2 linked regions of the Homo sapiens genome follow. The protein of the gene in region 1 interacts with the protein of each later gene in a biochemical or structural test. Each region holds a gene or a part of one and is shown on either strand. Other genes may lie near its edges.

Evidence for each region.
Region 2: of the proteins of XRCC1 (region 1) and RNF146, one has a biochemical effect on the other in vitro, tested with the Homo sapiens proteins (one study listed by BioGRID).

Annotation. Positions count from the first base shown.
Region 1 is NC_000019.10:43,556,799-43,566,537, forward strand, and holds part of XRCC1 (DNA repair protein XRCC1), read right to left. Parts: intron 4,223-9,739; coding exon 4,112-4,222; intron 1-4,111. UniProt on the Homo sapiens protein: Scaffold protein involved in DNA single-strand break repair by mediating the assembly of DNA break repair protein complexes. Negatively regulates ADP-ribosyltransferase activity of PARP1 during base-excision repair in order to prevent excessive PARP1 activity.
Region 2 is NC_000006.12:127,275,972-127,285,710, forward strand, and holds part of RNF146 (E3 ubiquitin-protein ligase RNF146), read left to right. Parts: intron 1-4,259; 5' UTR 4,260-4,367; coding exon 4,368-4,369; intron 4,370-4,544; exon of another isoform or gene 4,545-9,377; intron 9,378-9,739. UniProt on the Homo sapiens protein: E3 ubiquitin-protein ligase that specifically binds poly-ADP-ribosylated (PARsylated) proteins and mediates their ubiquitination and subsequent degradation. May regulate many important biological processes, such as cell survival and DNA damage response.

The sequences.
Region 1 (9,739 bases):
GTTCAAGACCAGCCTAGCCAACATGGTGAAACACCGTCTTTACTAAAAATACAAAAATTAGCTGGACATGGTGGTAGGCACCTATAATCCCAGCTACTCGAGAGGCTGAGGCACAAGAATCGCTTGAACCCAGGAGTTGGAGGTGATGGTGAGCCGAGATTGTGCCACTGCATTCCAGCCTGGGTGACGGAGCAAGACTCTGCCAAAAAACAAAAAACGAAACAAAAAGACTGGGCACAGTGGCTCACACCTGTAATCCCAGCACTTTGGGAGGCCAAAGCAGGCAAATCACGAGGTCAGGAGATCGAGACCATCCTGGCCAACATAGTGAAACCCCATCTCTACTAAAAATACAAAAAAATTAGCTGGGCATGGTGGCGCGTGCCTGTAGTCCCAGCTACTCGGGAGGCTGAGGCAGGAGAATCACTTGAACCCAGGAGGCGGAGGTTGCAGTGAGCCAAGATTGCGCCACTGCACTCCAGCCTGGCAATAGAGCGAGACTCCGTCTCAAAAAAAAAAAAAAAAAAAAAAAAGATGAATGCAGCCACTTTTGGTTGGGTATATTTTGTTACTGACTTAGTCTCTTTTCTAACTGACATGCTGTGAAATTATAAAATTGGACAATAAAGCCTTTTGCTGAGAAAAACAGAACATAACTATAGCTCTCTTTGTGCACAGCTGATTATGCAAAGGAAACAAGAAAGACAATTATACAGAAGGGAAGTTTTCTTCCTGACCTTGACTATACTTGTTTATAAAAGGCCTGATTTGGAGCTGACAGGGAAGCTGCATTTATCATCTGGTGACTAACATGGGAAAACCCTGTCCTACTAAATACAAAAAAAATAGCCATGCATGGTGGCACAGGCCTGTAATCCGAGCTACTTGGGAGGCTAAGATGGAGAATCGTTTGTACCTGGGAGGCGGAGGTTGCAGTGAACCGAGATTGCACCACTGCACTCCAGCCTGGGCAACAGGAGCAAAATTCCATCTCAAAAAAAAAAAAAAAAAAAAAAAAAAAGGAAGGAGGGAGGGAAGGAGGGGAGGGAGAATGGAAGGAAGGAAGGCTCCTGTGACTTTGGGTTTGTGCCTTTGATGTTTTTGAAGAGTAGAGGTCAGTGATTTTTGTCAGATATCACTTATTGTACAAAGTATCTGATGTTTCCTTGTGATTAATTTAGGTTGCACACTTTGGCCAGAATACCACAGAAGTGATGTGTAATATACAGTTTATTTTGTATATTGACTTCTCATCTTGTGACCTTCACTTACTAAACCTTGTAGTTTGTCTAGATCTCTTGGGATTTTCTGCATAGACAATCATGCCATCTGTGAAAAAAGATAGTTTTCTTTTTTCTTTTTCTCACCTTGTCACACTGACTAGTGCAAAGTTGGGCATGGTGGTGCAAGCCTGTAGTCCCAGCTACTTGAGGGGCTGTGGAAGGAGGATCACTTGAACCCGGGAGGACAAGGCTGCAGTGAGCTGAGATCGTGCCACTGCACTCCAGCCTGGGTGACAAAGTGAGACCTCGTTTCAAAAAAAAAAGAGTAGGCCAGGTACACACAGCAGCTCACATGTGTAATCCTAGCACTTTGGGAGGCCGCAGCAGGTGGATCACCTGACCTCAGGAGTTCAAGACCAGCCTGGGCAACACAGTGAAACCCTATTTCTACAAAAAATATTTAAAAATTAGCCGGGCATGATGGCTCCCACTAGCTACTTGGGGGGCTGAGGCGGGAGGATCACTTGAGCCCAGGAGGCAGAGGTTGCAGTGAGCTGAGATCATGCCACTGTACTCCAACCTGAGCAACAGAGTGAGACCCCCATCTCAAATAAATAAATAAATAAATAAATAAATACATATATACATAAATAAATAATATGGTTAAAAAAAGAGACAGTTTGGTATTGGCATAAAGAAAACTATACATATCAATGGAACAGAGAAGAGAGTACAGAAATAAACCCATACATATGGTTAATTAATTCTCAACAAGGAGTCAAAATGATTCAATGAGAAAAGGCAAGTCTTTTTTTTTTTTTCAAAGTATTTTCAGCCAGGTGCAGTGGCTCAGGTCTGTAATCCCAATACTTTGGGAGGCCAAGGTGGGAGGATCACTTTAAGCTCAGGAGTTCAAGACCAGCCAGGCAATGTAGTGAAACCCCATTTCTACAAAAAATTTTTTAAAAAATTAGCCGGGTATGGCGGCTCACACCTATAGTCCCAGCTACTCAGGAGGCTGAGGCTGGAGAATCCCTTGAGTCTGGGAAGCGGAGGTTGCAGTGAGCCAAGATCATGCCACTGCACTCCAGCCTGGCCAACAGAGTGAGACTCTGTCTTAAAATAAATAAAATAAATAAATAAGCATTGTCAACAAACATATAAAAAAGATACAGAAAAGGGCCGGGTGCGGTGGCTCACACCTGTAATCCCAGCACTTTGGGAGGCTAAGGTGGGCAGATCACAAGGTCAGGAGATCGAGACCATCCTGGCTAACACAGTGAAACCCTGTCTCTACTAAAAATACAAAAAATTAGCCGGGCATGGTGGCACGTGCCTGTAGTCCCAGCTACTCCGGAGGCTGAGGCAGAATGGCGTGAACCCGGGAGGTGGAGCTTGCAGTGAGCCGAGATCGCGCCACTGCACTCCAGCCTGGGCAACAGAGTGAGACTCCATCTCAAAAAAAAAAAAAAAAAAAAAAAAGATACAGAAAAAATAAACCTTATCCCCTGCTTCACACAATACACAAAAATTCACTTGAGATGAAACAGAGATCTAAATGTAAAATCTAAAAATAGAAAGCTTCTAGAAGAAAACATAGGAGACAGGCAGAATAACAGCTCCTCAAAGATGTTTACATCCTAATCCCTGAACCTGGAAATGTGGCAGAAGGCACTTTGCAGATGTGATGAACTTGAAGATGTTGAAATGGGGGAGATGCCCCTGGATTATCCGGGTAGGCCAAGTGTCATCATAAGGGTCTTTATAAGAAAGGAGGGCTGGGTGTGGTGGCTCATGCCTGTAATCCTAGCACTTTGGGAGGCTGGGGTGGGTGGATCACTTGAGCCCAGGAGTTTGAGACCAGCCTGGGCAACACAGTGAAACCCTCTCTCTATAAAAAATAACAAAAGCTAGCCAGGAGTGGTGGTGTGCACCTGTAGCCCTGGCTACTTGGGAGGCTGAGGTGGGAGAATCACTTGAACCTCAGAGGCAGAAGTTGCAGTGAGCTGAGAACACGCCACTGTACTCCAGCCTGGGCAACGGAAATGAAACCCTGTCTCAAAAAAAAATGAACAAAAGAAAAAGAAGGCCAGGCGCAGTGGCTCACGCCTGTAATCCCAGCACTTTGGGAGGCTGAGGCGGGCAGATGACGAGGTCAGGAGTTCGAGACCAGCCTGGCCAATATGGTGAAACCCCGTCTCTACTAAAAATACAAAAAAAAAAAGTTAGCCGGGCGTGGTGGTGGGCACCTGTAGTCCCAGCAACTCGGGAGGCTGAGGCAGAAGAATAGCTTGAACCCGGGAGGCAGAGGTTGCAAGGAGCTGAGATCGCGCCAGTGCACTCACTCCAGCCTGGGCGACAGAGCGAGACTCCGTCTCAAAAAAAAAAAAAGAAAAAGAAAAAAAGAAGGCAAGAGAGTCAGAGTTGGAGAAGTAACAATGGAAGTGGAAGCAGGCGTTAGAGTGACAGGAGTGCTGGCTTTGATGAAGGAAGGGTCACAAGCTGAGGAGGGCAGATGGACTCTAGAAGCTGAAATAGGCAAGGAAATGGATTCTCCCCTAGAGCCTCCAGAAGGAACAGGGCTCTGCCTACACCTAGATTTTAGCCCAGTGAGAGTGATTTCAGACTTCTGACCTCCAGAACAGTCGAATAATACATTTGTGTCATTTTAAGCCATGATCCAAACTTGCTCTCTTCCCTGATGTGCAGTTTACCGCCCTGTGTCTGCCTTCTGTCTCCTCCGTACACTGGGTGATCCTCCAGAGGGCAGCAATCAGGTGTGACTCACATCTGCCCCATGTCTTCCCAGCCCCAGCCCCTGGGGGAGACGGTGATGCGAGCATGAGGGGCAGAGGTCAGTATGGGATCCATCTCATAGCCCTGCTTACCTCATAGTCTTGCTCCCCAGCGCCTCCAGCTGAACTGCCCACCAGCACCTCCACGAAAGCTGAGCCATCATTCCCAATGTCCACACTGTGTATCTGCTCCTCCTTCTCCAACTGTGGGCAGAGAGAGAGGCCACTGTCAGTGCCTGCTCTGCCTCTGGGCTCACTGTGGGACCTCAGGATGAATCTCCTTTGGATCACCATGTCCCTGTAATGTCAATTCTGTGAGGGGGCACACCAGGGTTGAATGGTGCCATGTGTCCCCTCCATGCAGCACAGGGTATGGCATGGAGCAGAAACTCACAAAATAGTCACTGAATGAATGCATACGCGCCCACCTCACACATACCTGCTTCCCTGACCTCTCCAGACTCCACCAGGTCAGCTTATCACACACTGCCATAGAGCTCTCCTTGATAAGCACTTGCCAGAGTTATAACTTTATTCAAATCATCATGCAGACAAACAGCACATGTCACCCCTCACCCACAATCGCAGAGGACTCCAGGAAACCTCCCTGAGGGCAGGGGCTTTGTCCGATCTTGCTCACCGCTGGTTCCTGGGTTTGAATCCCAGCTGTGCTGCACACTAGCTGTATGACCATACCAGTTAACCTTTTGGAGCCTCAGTTTTCTCATCTGTAAAATGGGAATGACCACCATATCTAGGATCATGCACATAAATAATGGCCACAGGGCATGGCGAAGAGTAGGCAATTATCTGCTGTCAGTCAGGAGGTATTATTAGTCAGTGCTAGACAACTATTTGTTGAAAGAAGAAAAGAGCTACCTATAGGAGGGCTCATCTCAAAGGATCTGCCATTCCTGTCTGACAGATGAAGATGCAGAAAGCCGTGCGGGCCATGCGGGCACGGGAGGCAGTTAGGTTGAGGCAAGTGTCCTGCCTTCCAGTTTGGGGCTCTTTTATTAGGATCCTAGAATGACGCATTATTACAACTCTCAAAGGTACCTGGGCCAGGTGCAGTGGCTCAAGCCTGTAAATCCAGCACTCTGCGAGGCCAAGGCAGTGGACCACTTGAGGCCAGCCTGGCCAACATGGCAAAACCCCTTCTCTACTAAAAATATAAAATATAGCCGGGCATGGTGACACATGCCTGTAGTCCCAGCTCTTCAAGAGGCTGAGGCACAAGAATCTCTTGAACCTAGGAGGCAGAGGTTTCAGTAAGCAGAGATCATGCCACTGCACTCCAGCCTGGGTGACAGAGCGAGACTCTGTCACAAAAAAAAAAAAAAAAAAAACCAAGGTACCTAGTCCACCCTACACTGCCCTCTCCCACCCCTGGTGATGACAGATGCTCCAATCTGCTCTGTTGCCTCCCTGTCAGATCATCTAGACATCACCTGCACACTGCTATCAACAGGAACACCACTGTATGGAAGGAGGGAGCCTGGACTTGGGGTGAGGTAGGCCTGGGCTCAAATACAGCAATGCCATTTCCAACCTGCACAACCTTGGGTGACGTATTCAACGTCTCTGTGAGGCAGTTTCCTCACATGCAAAAAGGGAAGATGGTCATTAACAACCCTCCCTCCTTGGCCAGGCGCAGTGGCTCACGTCTCTATAACCAGCACTTTGGGAGGCTGGGGTGGGAGGATCACTTGAGGCTGGGAGTTCAAGACCAGCCTGGGCAACATAGCCAGACCTTGTCTCTACAAAAATTACAAAAATTAGCAAGGCATGGTGGCACATACCTGTGGTCCCAGCTACTCAGGAGGCTGAGGAAGGAGGATCGCGTGAGCCTGGGGAGGTCAAGGCTGCAGTGAGTCATGTTCGCATCACTGTACTCTGGGCGACAGAGTGATGAGACCTTGTCTTCAAAAAAAAACTTACCCTCCCTCTGAAGGAAGTTGAGATGACACAGAATTAACAACTATAACCACAACTGCGGCCAACATCCGAGTGCACTGAGCGCTCCTGGTGTGCCAGACTCCTGCTAATAATACATGTATCTACTCTCCTGCAATGGCTCTGCCAGGCAGTTGCTATAATTATCTCCATCTTACACATGAGCAAACGGAGGCAGGAAGTGGTTATGTAACTTCACAGCTGGTGGGTGGCAAAGCCGGACCGGAACCCAGGCAGGCTGGCAACAGTCCACGCGTGCTCCTCCATCACACCACTGACGTGCTAGAGGAGGAAGATGGTGCTGGAGGAAGGGCCTGCCTAAGGCTGAGGCCGGCAGACCTCCTGCTGACTCCCCTGCCTCCACCGCCATTCCCAGCCCTGGGCCCTGGGCAGTGTACAGTGCTGCCTGGGCTCATGAGATGTCCCAGTCTGGGCCAGGTGTGGTGGCTCACACCCGTAATACCAGCACTTTGGGAGGCTGAGACAGGTGAATCGCTTGAGGTCAGGAGTTTGAGACTAGCCTGGCCAACATGGTGAAACCCTGTCTCTACTAAAAATATGAAAATTAAAATTAGCCGGGCATGGTGGTGAGCGCCTGTAATCCCAGATACTGGGGAGGCTGAGGCAGGAGAATCACTTGAACCCGGGAGGCAGAGGTTGCAGTGAGCCGAGATTGTGCCACTGCACTCCAGCTTGGGCGATGGAGTGAGACTCTGTCTCAAAAACAACAACAACAACAAAAACAACAATAACAAGAAGTCCCAGTCTGACTGCTCCCCAGGCCAGGCTTGGTGACTTTCCACCAGCCACAACGGCCTCCCTTCTGTGCCAAGAACAGTCTGGCTCCTTCCCACCTCAGGGCCTCTGCACCTGCCAATCCCCCTGCCTAGACCACTCTTCCCTCAAACATATCCATAGCTGGGTAAAAGTTTGCCTTCTGTGCTTCAGGTGCCCACTCAGATGTCACTTCAGACCATAAGTAACCTACCTCGCCCCCTACCTGGTGCCACTCTCTATCTCCCTACCCGACTTTACTTTTCTTCATGATTACTGCCTGGTGTTACACAGTTACATCTTTTTTGTTTGTATTTGTCTAGCATCTGTCTCTCCCGCCAGACTTTTAAGCTCCACAAGAGCAAGGACAGTATCGTCTGAGTTGTTCCCTACTGTGTCCCCAAGGCCAAGAACAGTGTCTGGTCCTTCCCAGCTCTGCTGATTTCCTGCTGTGTGATCCTGGAGCAAATGGTTTCATTTCACCCCTTGTGCCTCAGTTTTCGAACCTATGAAATGGGGACAATAACAACGTCTATCTCATAAAGTTGTTGAGAACATTCAAATCCATACCAAGAATGAGAAATAACATACCAAGTGCCTGGAATACTGCCTGGCACCGAGCAAACACTACATAAATGTCAGCTGCGAATATCATTAACACAGCAGGCCTCTACTGCATTCCCAATGGATGTACAGACAGACGCAGAACAGGCGCCCAGCAACCGTTTGCAGAAGTTACTACTCAAGAGTTATTAAGCAGTAACTCTGGCTCTGTCCTCCCTTACCAAGTGGCCCTGTTGAGCCCCTTCTCTGCTGCTTGCCTGGGTGTCCCATCTGTCACAAGAGGATCATCATGGCTAACATTTTCGGATTCTCACCATGTGCCAGGTGCTTGGTGTATGAGTTTCCTGTTACTGTTGTACAAATTAGCACAAACTTTGTGGCTAAAAACACAAATTTGGCCAGGCGCAGTGGCTCACGCCTGTAATCCCAGAACTTTGGGAGACTGAGGCAGGCGGATCACCTGAGGTAGGGAGTTCGAGACCAGCCTGACCAAAATGCAGAAACTCCGTCTCTACTAAAAATACAAAATTAGCCAGGCGTGGTGGCGCATGCCTGTAATCCCAGCTACTCAGGAGGCTGAGGCAGGAGAATTGCTTAAACCGGGGGGGCGGAGGTTGCAGTGAGCCGAGATCACACCACTGCACTCCAGCCTGGGCAAGAAGAGCGAAACTCCGTCTCAAAAAAACAAAAAAAAAACACACAAATTTAATATCTTACAGATCTGGAGGTCAAAAGTCTGAAACTCGGCCTTACAGGGCTAAAATCTAGATGCGGCAGGGCTGCATTCCTTCCTTCCGGGAGCACTAGAGGAGAACGTGTCTCCTTGCATCTTCGGCTTCTCGAGGCCACCTGCCTTCCTTGGCTCACAGTCCCTTCCTCGTCTTCAAAGCTGCTGAAAGCGCTGGCATCACTCCAGGCTCTGCTTGCATCTTCACAGCTCTGGTTCCAGCTCTCTTGCCTCCCTCTTTCCCTTATAAGGCCTCTGGGGGTTACGTGAGGCCCACCAGATAATCCAGGGCACTCTCCCCATCTCAAGATCCTTAATTTAATCAAACCCACAGAGCTCCTTTGGCCATTAAAATATTTCCAGGTTCTGGGGATGAGGACATGAACATCTTTTGAGCACCACTGTTCTGTCCACCACACTTGGCTAAGCATGGGCCGGGCATCACTGAAGCCTCAAAACCACTTTAAATAGAAGGGTCTGTTACGACTCCAGTTTCACAGATGGGGAAACTGAGGCTCAGACAGGTTTAATCAATAGCTTACATGGCACACAAGCTAATAACTAGCAGAGTACTTCGGACGCAACTGCCTGACTGCAAAGCACTGTCCAATACCACCACTGTTCTCAACTCCTTTCTTTCCATCCCTGAGTCAAACTCAACATCTTTACCTCTCCCACAATATTCAGCATAGCTCCTAAATGTGGTAGGATGGAGATGCTTGTATTTTAAATGAACAATTCCTACTGCATATATAACTATTTCTACTTTAAACAGGCACTCCCTGACATTTCTTCTTTGTATATAAAAAAAGTCCTGGCTAGGAGCACTGGCTCACGCCTGTAATCCCAGCACCGTGGGAGGTGGAGGCGGGAGAATCACTTGAGGCCAGGAGTTCGAGACCAGCCTGGCCAACATAGCAAAACCCTGTCTCTACCAAAAATAAAAAAAGTTAGCTGGGTGTGGTGACACGCACCTCAATAATCCCAGCTACTCAGGAGGCTAAGGCACAAGAATTACTTGAACCTGGGAGGTGGAGGTTGCAGTGAGTTGAGACGAGCCACTACACCCCAGCCTGGGTGATAAAGTGAGACTCTGTCTCAAGAGAGAAAACAACAGGCTGGGCACAGTGGCTCACACCTGTAATCTCAGCACTTTGGGAGGCCAAGGCAGGCAGATCACTTGAGGCCAGGAGTTCAAGACCAGCATGACCAATATGGTGAAACCCTGTCTCTACTAAAAATATAAAAATTAGCCAGACTTGGTGGCGTGCACCTGTAATCCCAGCTACACAGGAGGCTGAGGCCAGAGAATCACTTGAACCTGGGAGGCAGAAGTTGCAGCGAACCGAAATCATGCCACTGCACTCCAGCCTGGGTGACAGAGTGAGACTCCATCTAAAAAAAAAAAAAAGTGGCCAGGCACGGTGGCTCAGGCCTGTAATCCTAGCACTTCGGGAGGCAGAGGTTGGCAGATCACAAGGTCAGGAGAGTTCAAGACCAGGCTGGCCAAGAGGGTGAAACCCCGTCTCTAGTAAAAATACAAAAATTAACCAGGCATGGTGGCAGGCGCCTGTAATCCCAGCTACTCGGGAGGCTGAGGCAGAGAATTGCTTGAACCCAGGAGGCGGAGGTTGCAGTGAGCCAAGATCATGCCACTGCATTCCAGCCTGGGTGGCAGAGCAAGACTCTGTCTCAAAAAA
Region 2 (9,739 bases), on another chromosome or scaffold:
GACCCAATATTGTGCTTCACATATGGAAGAAACCTGGTCCATTTTGCCTTTTAAATATATCAGTCAGTCCTAGCTACTTGGGAGGCTGAGATGGGAGGATCGCTTGAGCCAAGCAGTTTGAGGTTTTAGTGAGCTATGATCATGCCACAGCATTCTAGCCTGGGAAACAGACTGTAGAGTGAGTGTATGTGTGTGTGTGTGAGAGAGTGAGAGAGAGAGAATCTCACTCAAAGGCTTAATAAATGAGGGTGATACTGACACAAGATAATCAGGCTGAACAATAGTCCAGGTGAGAGTTATGTAGGTTTAAACTAGGGCACTAGCAATGGGTAGAGAGTACAGGATAGATTCCAAAGGGATTAGGAATAAAAGTTGACAGAATTTATGGTGTGGTTGGTTGGGGTGGGGGAGCAGGGGGCTGTGTGGTGAGAGAAAGGACTTTCTCTTTTTCTCCATGAACACAAAGTAGTTAAGACATGAAACCTGAGATGTCATATTGTAAGAATTATGCAGAAATGGGGGTTTGTAAAATGTGTGTATATGAGATAAAGATATGAGGGGGCCAAGGGTTCTGTTAAGAAGTAAAAAAGATTGGGTTCCAGAATGGGCAGGAAAGGAAATGAGATCAGGAACTGGATAAAGGAAAGGAGATGGTCAAGAGATGGTAGGTCCCCATGAAATTGAAGAGCAGGTGTGGGAATGAGTAGGCTGGAAGAACCAGAGCTTGTGATCTGAGAGTCGGATTAAGATTTCAGAGAGGCAGCAGTTTAGGTGACAACTAGCTTTAAATGTGATTATAATATTTGGTTGCTGGAGAGTAGATTAATTTCTTCAAATTTAGGATTTAAGGAACTGAAAATTGAGGATGGTGTTTCTCAGATTGTATTTGAAGGACTAAAGCATGAGTACCACCTGGGGTGAGATTCCTAGGTTTAAACCTATGTCTACTGGCCTAGAATTTCTAAGGAAAGGGGCTGAGAATATGTATTTCTAACAAGCAATTTCAGTGATTCTGATGAATAGAAGTTGGGACAAGTTTAAGAACCTGTGCAATAGGTGTTGGATGGTTCATTTTCAAGGCTATTTAAATAGGCTGATAGTCATGTCAGGAGTTAGGATGAAGAGGATGATCAGTAGTGAAAAGATGACATTAATCCCTTACAGGTGGTGAGAGAGCAGTTTTAGGGGATTATGGGGTATGTTAAAGTCAGTGTGATAGAGACTTGAAAGAAAAAGTAATGATGTTGGAGCAGTAAATTGTCTCCTCCTGTCCTATATATAGGGAGTGTATGAAAATGTGCAGTTTTCTGTTTGGCGTAGGCTGCAGCAAGGAAATGAACATAGCCTTCTTTGATGCCATTGAAGTTGTAGGCTCCTTGAAGTTGGTGAAAGGGTTGAGAGGAAAGTCAAAATAGTGGAGTCCATTTCATCTAAAGTCAGAGTAAAACAAAAAGGTTACTTAGAAACCTTGTTTAGTCAGTATATTAGGCAGTGTTCTCTAGGGGGACAGAACTAATAGAATATATATATGAGTTTATTAAGTATTAGCTTACACGATCACAAAGTCCCACAACAGGCTGTCTGCAAGGAGCAAGGAGAGCTAGTCCGAGTCCCAAAACTGAAGAACTTGGAGTCTGATGTTCGAGGGCAGGAAGCATCCAGTACAGGAGAAAGATGTAGGCTGGGAGGCTAGGCCCATCTTTCTTTTTCACATTTTTCTGCCCGCTTTATATTCACTGGCAGCTGATTAGATTGTGCCCACCAGATTAAGGGTGAGTCTGCCTTGCCCAGCCCACTGACTCAAATGTTAATCTCTTGGCAACACCCTCACAGACACACCCAGGATCAATACTTTGTATCCTTCACTCCAATCAAGTTGACACTCGGTATTAACCATCACAGTCAGTTACTTTTGAAAGTTCTCTGATTTTAAAACAAATTGTTTGTTCTGTTAAACATTTGGTAGGATAAGTCAGCTTGTATTTAGGGGCCACATAATGGCATTAAGAATATGTTTCTTTAAACACTAGAATCTTAAGATACCGTAGGGAGATAGATGCCCATAGTATGAGAGCCACATGGAAATAAAAGAAGATTGAAGTCTCCTCTATCTTGTGTTTACTGTGAGATCTATCATTTCTTTAGTTATCATGTGTTCTTGATTATTCTGTGTAATATGATGTGCGTCCTGTAGTGGACATGGTGAGGTGGAGATGGAAATACTAAATGAGAAGAAAGAAGATTAATGACTGAGATGGTACAGGTTTTTAAGAGTACAATTCCATGTAGTTAATTTCATTTACAATGTTATGCAACTATCACCATTATAGATTTTCCACAACTTTTTTTTAGCATTACAAACAGAAACTCTGTACCCATTAGGCAATAACTCTCCACTTTCCTTCCTTCACTCTCTGGTAACTTCTGATACCTTCTGCTTCTATGAATTTGCCTATTCTTGATATTTCATGTAAGTGGAATCATACTTTTCTGTATGTGGCTTATTAGTATGTTTTCAAGGTTCATCTATATTGTAGCACATATTTCTTTTTATTACTGAATAATGTACTGTTGTATTTATAGACCACATTTTGTTTATCCATTCATCTGTTGGTAGATACTTGAATTGTGTCCACCTTTTGCCTAATATTTCCGCAGTGAATATTGGCATACAAGTGTCTGAGAACCTCTTCAATTCTATTGCTATATCCCTGGGAGTGGCATTGCTGTGTTAGCTTTTTGAGGAAGCAACAAATTATTATTCACAGCAGCTACACCCTTTTACCTTCCTACCAGCAGTTTTCAAAGGTCCTATTTTTCTACATCCTCACCAACACTTATTATTTTTCCCTTTAAAAAAGTTGTAGCCTCCTTATAGATGTATCATTGTGATTTTGATTTACATTTCCCTAATTACTAATAATGTTAAGGATCTTTTTGTGTGTTTATTGGCCATTTGTGTATCTTCTTTAAGTTCTTTACTCATTTTTTGCTCACTTTTTAATTGGTTTGTCTTTGTTGTTGAGCTGCAGTTCTTTACATATTCTGGATATTAAACCTTTATCAGATACATGATTTGCCAAGATACTCTCCCATTCTGCAGTTTGTCTTTTTATTTTCTTAACAGTGTCTTTTGATGCACAAAAATTTTAAACTTATATAAAGCCCAATTTATTTCCTATGTTTCTCATGCTTTTGATGTCATATCTAGGAATCCATTGCAAATCTAAGGCCATGAAGATTTGCTCCTGTGTTTTCTATTAAGAGTTTTATGGTTTTATTTCTTATATTTAGGTTATTGATTCATTCTGAGTTAACTTTTATATATAGTATACGGTAGAGGTCCAGCTTAATTATTTTGCATGTGGAAATCCAGTTGTCCCAACAACATTAGTTAGAGGTGCCTGTTTTCCCCCATTGAGTAGACTTGACACCCTTTTGGAAAATCAGTTGGCTATTGATGTATGAGTTTATTTCTGGACTCTCAATTCTATATCATTGGTGTATTTATCTGTCCTATGCCAGCACCAAACTGTCTTGTTACCTTAGCTTTGTAGTAAGTTTTGACATTGGATTTTTCAAGATTGTTTGGGTTACTTAGGGTCCTTTGCAATTCCATATGAATTTGAGGATTGCTTTTCCATTTCTGCAAAAAAGGTTGTTGGAATTGTGATAGGAATTATGTTGAATCTGTAGATCACTTTGGGTAGTATTGTCATTTTAATATGTTAAGTCTTCCAATCCATACATCACTTGTCTATTTACTTAGCTCTTCTTTAATTTCTTTCAGTAATGCTTTATAGTTTTCTGTGTACAAGTCCTTCACCTCCTGGGTTAAGTTGATTCCTGGCTATTTTATTCCCTTAGTTACTTTATGAATGAACTGTTTTCTTGATTTCTTTTTTGGATTGTTGTCTCCTGGTGTATCAGAACACAACTGATTTTTTTGTGTGTCAAACTTGTAACCTGCAACTTTGCTGAATTTGTTTATTAGCTTTCTTGGGGATTCTATGAGATCTTCTATCTAGAGAGAATAGACATAGTTTTACTTCCTCCTTACCCGTCTGTATGCCTTTATCTCTTTTCCCTAATTTGCTCTGCTAGAACTTACAGTCATGTTGAATAGCAGTGGTAAAAGCATGCATCTTGTCTTTAATTTTTCCCACTTTTAAGATAAAGTTTTCCACTGAATTTTTTGAAAGGATTATACATAATTAACTGATTCTCTTGATCTTAATTACTCTTTTTTTCTTTTGCAGCACAAAGAATGAACCAGCAGTGGAAGAGAAAATACTGTAAGCTGGCTGACTGCTGGTGAAGAAAATGCTTTATTTTTGTGGCAGGCATCTGTGGGATCTGTAATAGAAATGTAAGTGTAGCATCATGGTTTTTTTCAGTGCTGCAGTAAATTAAATGGATTGGTTTAACGTGTGGTAAATTGAGTATCTGTCATATGTAGTTTTAATTATATTAAATGAGCATTTTCTTTTGACTTATAGGTGCTTTATTAACAATTTATTTACATTAAGTTATCGTTAATGTAGATTTCCAAGTCTCCTCAAAAGGAAAAGTCTCTATAAGAAAAACTGAAGACACAGGAGTTTGCTCAAAGAATGCTGAAATAGATCTCCAGGTCCTCTGGGTTCTACCTTCTTTTTACATAATAATTTTCTTAAATAACTAAGCTAGGCAAGTAGTACTAGCTTTTGTAAATAAGACAGACTACTAGGTTATAAAAACTCTAGTTACTAAAAACTTGTTTCACTAAATTAAAGGAATTTCTACATAATTGATTTTTTTAATGTAATAATACATCACTGCATTTTATTCATATCACTTCACTCTGATCCCCAGTTTTACTAGTTGTGCTTTCATCATTTATCTTTGCATGATATGCTTTAAAGTGTTACACACTACCTTGGATTTGTCCATATTTAACTTCACCGTATTGATGAAACATTTTTCACTATGAATATATTTCTGTTTTCTAAATTCATATAAGCCCTATGCAACTTGATGTCATTCATGAAAAATGTAGTGAATATTTTATTGACTTTTAATTACAGTGTTTTTCTTATTAGAGCAAGAGTGACCTTGGTAGATGCTATTTCACATTTTCCCAGTTTGACATAAAACTCTTGCTTTCTACTCTTCCAGTATGATACTGGTTACATGTAATGATATGTATTAACAATAATTAATTTATTATTAAAAGTATGACCATATTATTTTTATTCAGTATTGAAAATTTGATAATTGAAAAATGATACTAATAAGCATTTGTCTTTAAAAATATATATTTTATTTAATCCTGTCCATTTATCTATCTGTATACATTTTTTAAAATCTTAATAGGTCAGATAGTCTAGGTGCTGGTCATCAAGGAACTTACTGTGATCCAGTAAATGAGACATGTATGTAATTAACAAACAGTGGAATAGATGCCATATTAAGGTAACAATCAGATGCTATTGAAACTGAACAGAGGAAGAGATTAATTTCATCTGAAGGGTTCAGAATGAACAGAATAAGTTTCACCTTGCCTTCAAAGAATGAGTAGAATTTTAACAGTCAAAGAAAATTAGGAAATATTTTTCAAGCCAAGGGAATGAGGAGGGAAACAGCTGCCTAATCATCAACACATTTTAGAGGAGTCAGGGAACAGTAATATGTGGGAAGGCAGGGTAGGAGAAAGAGACTTCAAAATAAGTGCAGGGAGTGAACATTTATTTAGTACTTACTATATTACCAGATTTTACATTTATTTAACATACAATCAATCTTAATTGATTTTGATACTTAGGGACAGAGTATATTGATCAGTCTTGGAGGAGTTAGGGGACAGTACTTACTAGATGTTGAGGGGTTAGCTTTGTAAACAAGTAGCAGTACCCCATATTGAGCCAGGAGGAATAATGATAAGACAGTAAAGGTAAAGATAGATTTTCAGGATTTATTTTTGACTTACCTAATTTCTCAGTGATACAGGTGTTAGTATATCGATAAACTAGGAGGGAGAAGTTTTATGATAGTCTCTGGGGAATAGGGAAAGAAAGATGTCTTGGCCGAGTAAAAGTTTACTGGGATTGATGGTGTTTAGGAAATCAAAATAGCTATTAAGTGTGTGGGGTTCACAACTTTTGCACCACACAAAAGTGAATTGTATGGTGAAATTTTTGTCACTTAGAGTAACTTGCTTGATTATTCTTTTTTGCGAATGTCTCCCTTGTTGGCTTTTGTGGTGGTGGTCTATCTTTATTTCCTGTTCTTCTCTGACCATTCCTTACACCCCTTCCTGGCTATTTTACCTCACAGATATTGGAGTAATTCAAGATTCTGTGGTTGGCCCTTTTGACTGCTCTCTCTACAGGTTTAATTTGGGCATTTACTCATTTTCATGGCTCCAAGGACCATGTATGTGTTGGTGAGTCACCAGACTTTTTTCAGCTCAGATTTATTCTTGGAGTATCAAACTAGTAAATTCAGCTGTCATCTACCTATCTCCACCTGGAGACCTTAATAAAGTCATTATGTCTGAGACAGAACTCTCCTCAAATTCTGAATTTTGGTGAATGTGTCACCATCCATCAGTAATCAAATGCTTTCATTTCTTTTTCCTTAGCATTCTTCTATTCTATTGTTGGAAACTTACATCAGCAACCTCCCTCTAATTATCTTATACTTGCATTACTACCTGGATATTCTAGTTTCCCTTTCGCCATACCTCCTCCTGCATTACCAAACTTTCCTCCAACCTGCTGTTCAAATGGTCTGGAAGCTACTAAACTGGCTGTTATTTCCTGACGTAAAACCTTTCAGTGAACTCCTCTTGTCTCATTAGTGGTTCATATGTGGACCAGCTTCATAGAAATCCTTAAGCCCCTTGAAATTATATGTAGGATTGTTCCCTTTTTGTGTGTCTGTAATTGGATTCTAAATTCAGACTTTAAAAATCTGATTTTTAATATTTGGAGTTTTTATTGCAAGCTAAAAATTTCTTGAATACTACACATACTAAAGATCTTTTTTGCTTATAATAATTTTGCCTTTCATTTGACTAGTTGTCCAAGAAGTTTCAAGGAAATCTGAGTTCTTGGAGATTTCCACTAACTCTGCCCATACCCCTCTATATTTTGTCTTCTTGAGAAGAAGACTTAGTATTAATAGACTCTTATTAGTCTGGCAGAAATATTTCACATGGTTTATCTATTGGAAGAAGGGGATTTATACTTAAAAGTTGGAATATCACATGAAGAATTCAGTAAAAACGTCTTTGAAAGTAAATGATGTATTATACTTATTAATAGAATTGGACTAACGTCACTCCAAATTTCTGTGTATTAAATTCTTAGTTTAGTAAACTGGAAATAAATTCCCTTTTTCAAAATTAGAATTTTCTGAGACATTTATGAGATAGGGAATACCTCTTTTGATTAGCATTAATACTTGCTCTACACAAAGGGAGGGGAAAAGCTTTCTTATTTACATATTGGTATGATCATCTGCATACATTTAGTCTCCCACCTATTTTAAGATCATTGGAACTGCAAAACAGAGACTGTGTAGGGTAGATTAAAATGGTTTTTTAAAAAGCCTTGAAGTATGTCTTATAGGTAGACTAGCAGTTTGGGGTTACTTTGTGTCTATCTTGTTACACATTTTATCTCTATCTTACTTATTGCATGTGCCTCATTCAGAATTAAATAAGAAATATCACTAAGTTTTTCTGCCCATTTGTTAGTTGGTGATAGACTAACAGTATACTTGATGGGCTAAACAGAATCAGAATTTATAAATTGCTATGGCAAATTGATAGTTAAGAGTGCTTCAGATGAAATAATGACCATTTAGCTGTCTGGTGTCCATTGTTTGCAGATTAACTTTGTCCAACTTCACTTCATTCTGATGATGGAACCAAAATACCTGCACAAACAGGATTGTTTTGCCTTTCCAATTATGTTATTATAATTCATGCCTTCTCCTGGGATGATTGTAATTGCTTTCTTAGTTTTGAAATTATGTGTTTTGGTTTATTCATAAATGCAAGAGTAAGAGTCATGCAAAATATTAATCATATTAAGTAGGGTGGAGGATAATGTTTTTAGGTTGGAAACTTTTTTTTCTGTAGATAAACGAGCTGTATGTGATGGAAAACTGACTTCTTGGGCCCATTTTACTTAAAGCAAATACAATAGGTTTGGAATTATGTATTTAAAAGCATGGCATTGGTCCACGTGACATGTTGGGTGTCTTGTTTTCATTTTACCAGACTCTGTTTTTATTTATGTTTTCAGTTTATGATCCTGTCCTTTGTTCATAAGGTACTTAGATGGTTTAAGATGTAGACTTCTTATATGAAGATGTTGCTGTTGTTTTTCCAAAGTAATGGTGGTCATCAGCCCATTTTTCTATTTAGTCTCATGAATAGAATCATGAGTAGAATCTTTCTTAAATTATTACTTGTAAATGGATCACTTTCTTGTTTTCTTTTTCTTAATTGGAGCTTTAAATAAATATGGAACTTGGAACAAAAAGATTTTCAGGAATTTTATGGAAACTAACTTTTTTGACCTAAATCGAAAGGGATGAAAGTTTCTGAAAACCTAACAAAATGTGTGCACAGCCAATTCTTTTAGGGGAGGAAATAGGCAGGGAATGTGTAATTGGCTATTTTAAAAACATATGCCTTCTTTTGTAACTTATTGTTGTTTCAAGTTACAAGATCTTTGAAGGCAAGTGTTTATCTCAAAATATTTGAAAGCTTTTATAGTGCTTAACATACTAAGACGTCCTATTAGGGTTTACTTAGAACAAGCTTATCCAACTTGTGGGCCACATGTGGCCCAGGATGGCTTTGAAAGCGGCCTAACACAAATTCATAAGCTTTCTTAAAACATTATGTGATTTTTTTTTTTAGCTTATCAGCTATCATTAGTGTTAATGCATTTTATGTGTGGCCCAAGACAATTCTTTTTCTTCCAGTGTGGCCCAGGGAAACCAAAAGATTAGACACCCCTGACTTAGAACTTTCCATAGGTTAGGAGAAAGTTGTACTTTCTTGATGTCTATAACCTAGAATTTCTGGTAAAGGAATTGATTGGAAATGTTATTAAAAGTTGAAAATAATTTGGAAATTAAACATTTTAGTGATCAGTTCTTCCATTGAGACTGTGTTGGTTCCTTTACTAGATATGTGCCATCTTTTTAAAAACTTACTGTGTTGCTTCCTTTACTAGAAAATTGCCATCTTTTTGAGCCTTGTCTATTGAGGAACCAAGAACACAGAAAAGGCAGTAAAAAGAAAAAAAAGGATTGTTTGAAGATTGAATGTGCTGTGATGATAGCCTAGGATTATTGTTTTTCAATTTTTGATGAGCGTAAGCATTCTTGTTGACTATATCTTTTGTAACTACTGACCCATTTAGAATGGCAGAATTAGCTGGCAGAGAGATTGTCATTCATTTTAAGCTTTCAATCTCTGACATCTTCATCTTTATTTCTCAGTCTTTTTTACTTATCAGTGGTTTACTCCATTATTTTCTCCCCTTTTAAAATGTCTTTTTTTTTTTTTTTTTACCATGGGGAAAAAAATTAGATGTTTCCTTGGCAGGGCACAATAACACAATAAGGCTTTCATGACTTAACTTTTGATTACCTTTACACCTTCATCTCCTGCTCTTCCATTGCTTGTATGACTATTTGACTCAGTGTCTTGCATGTGCTTCTGCCTGGAATCTGC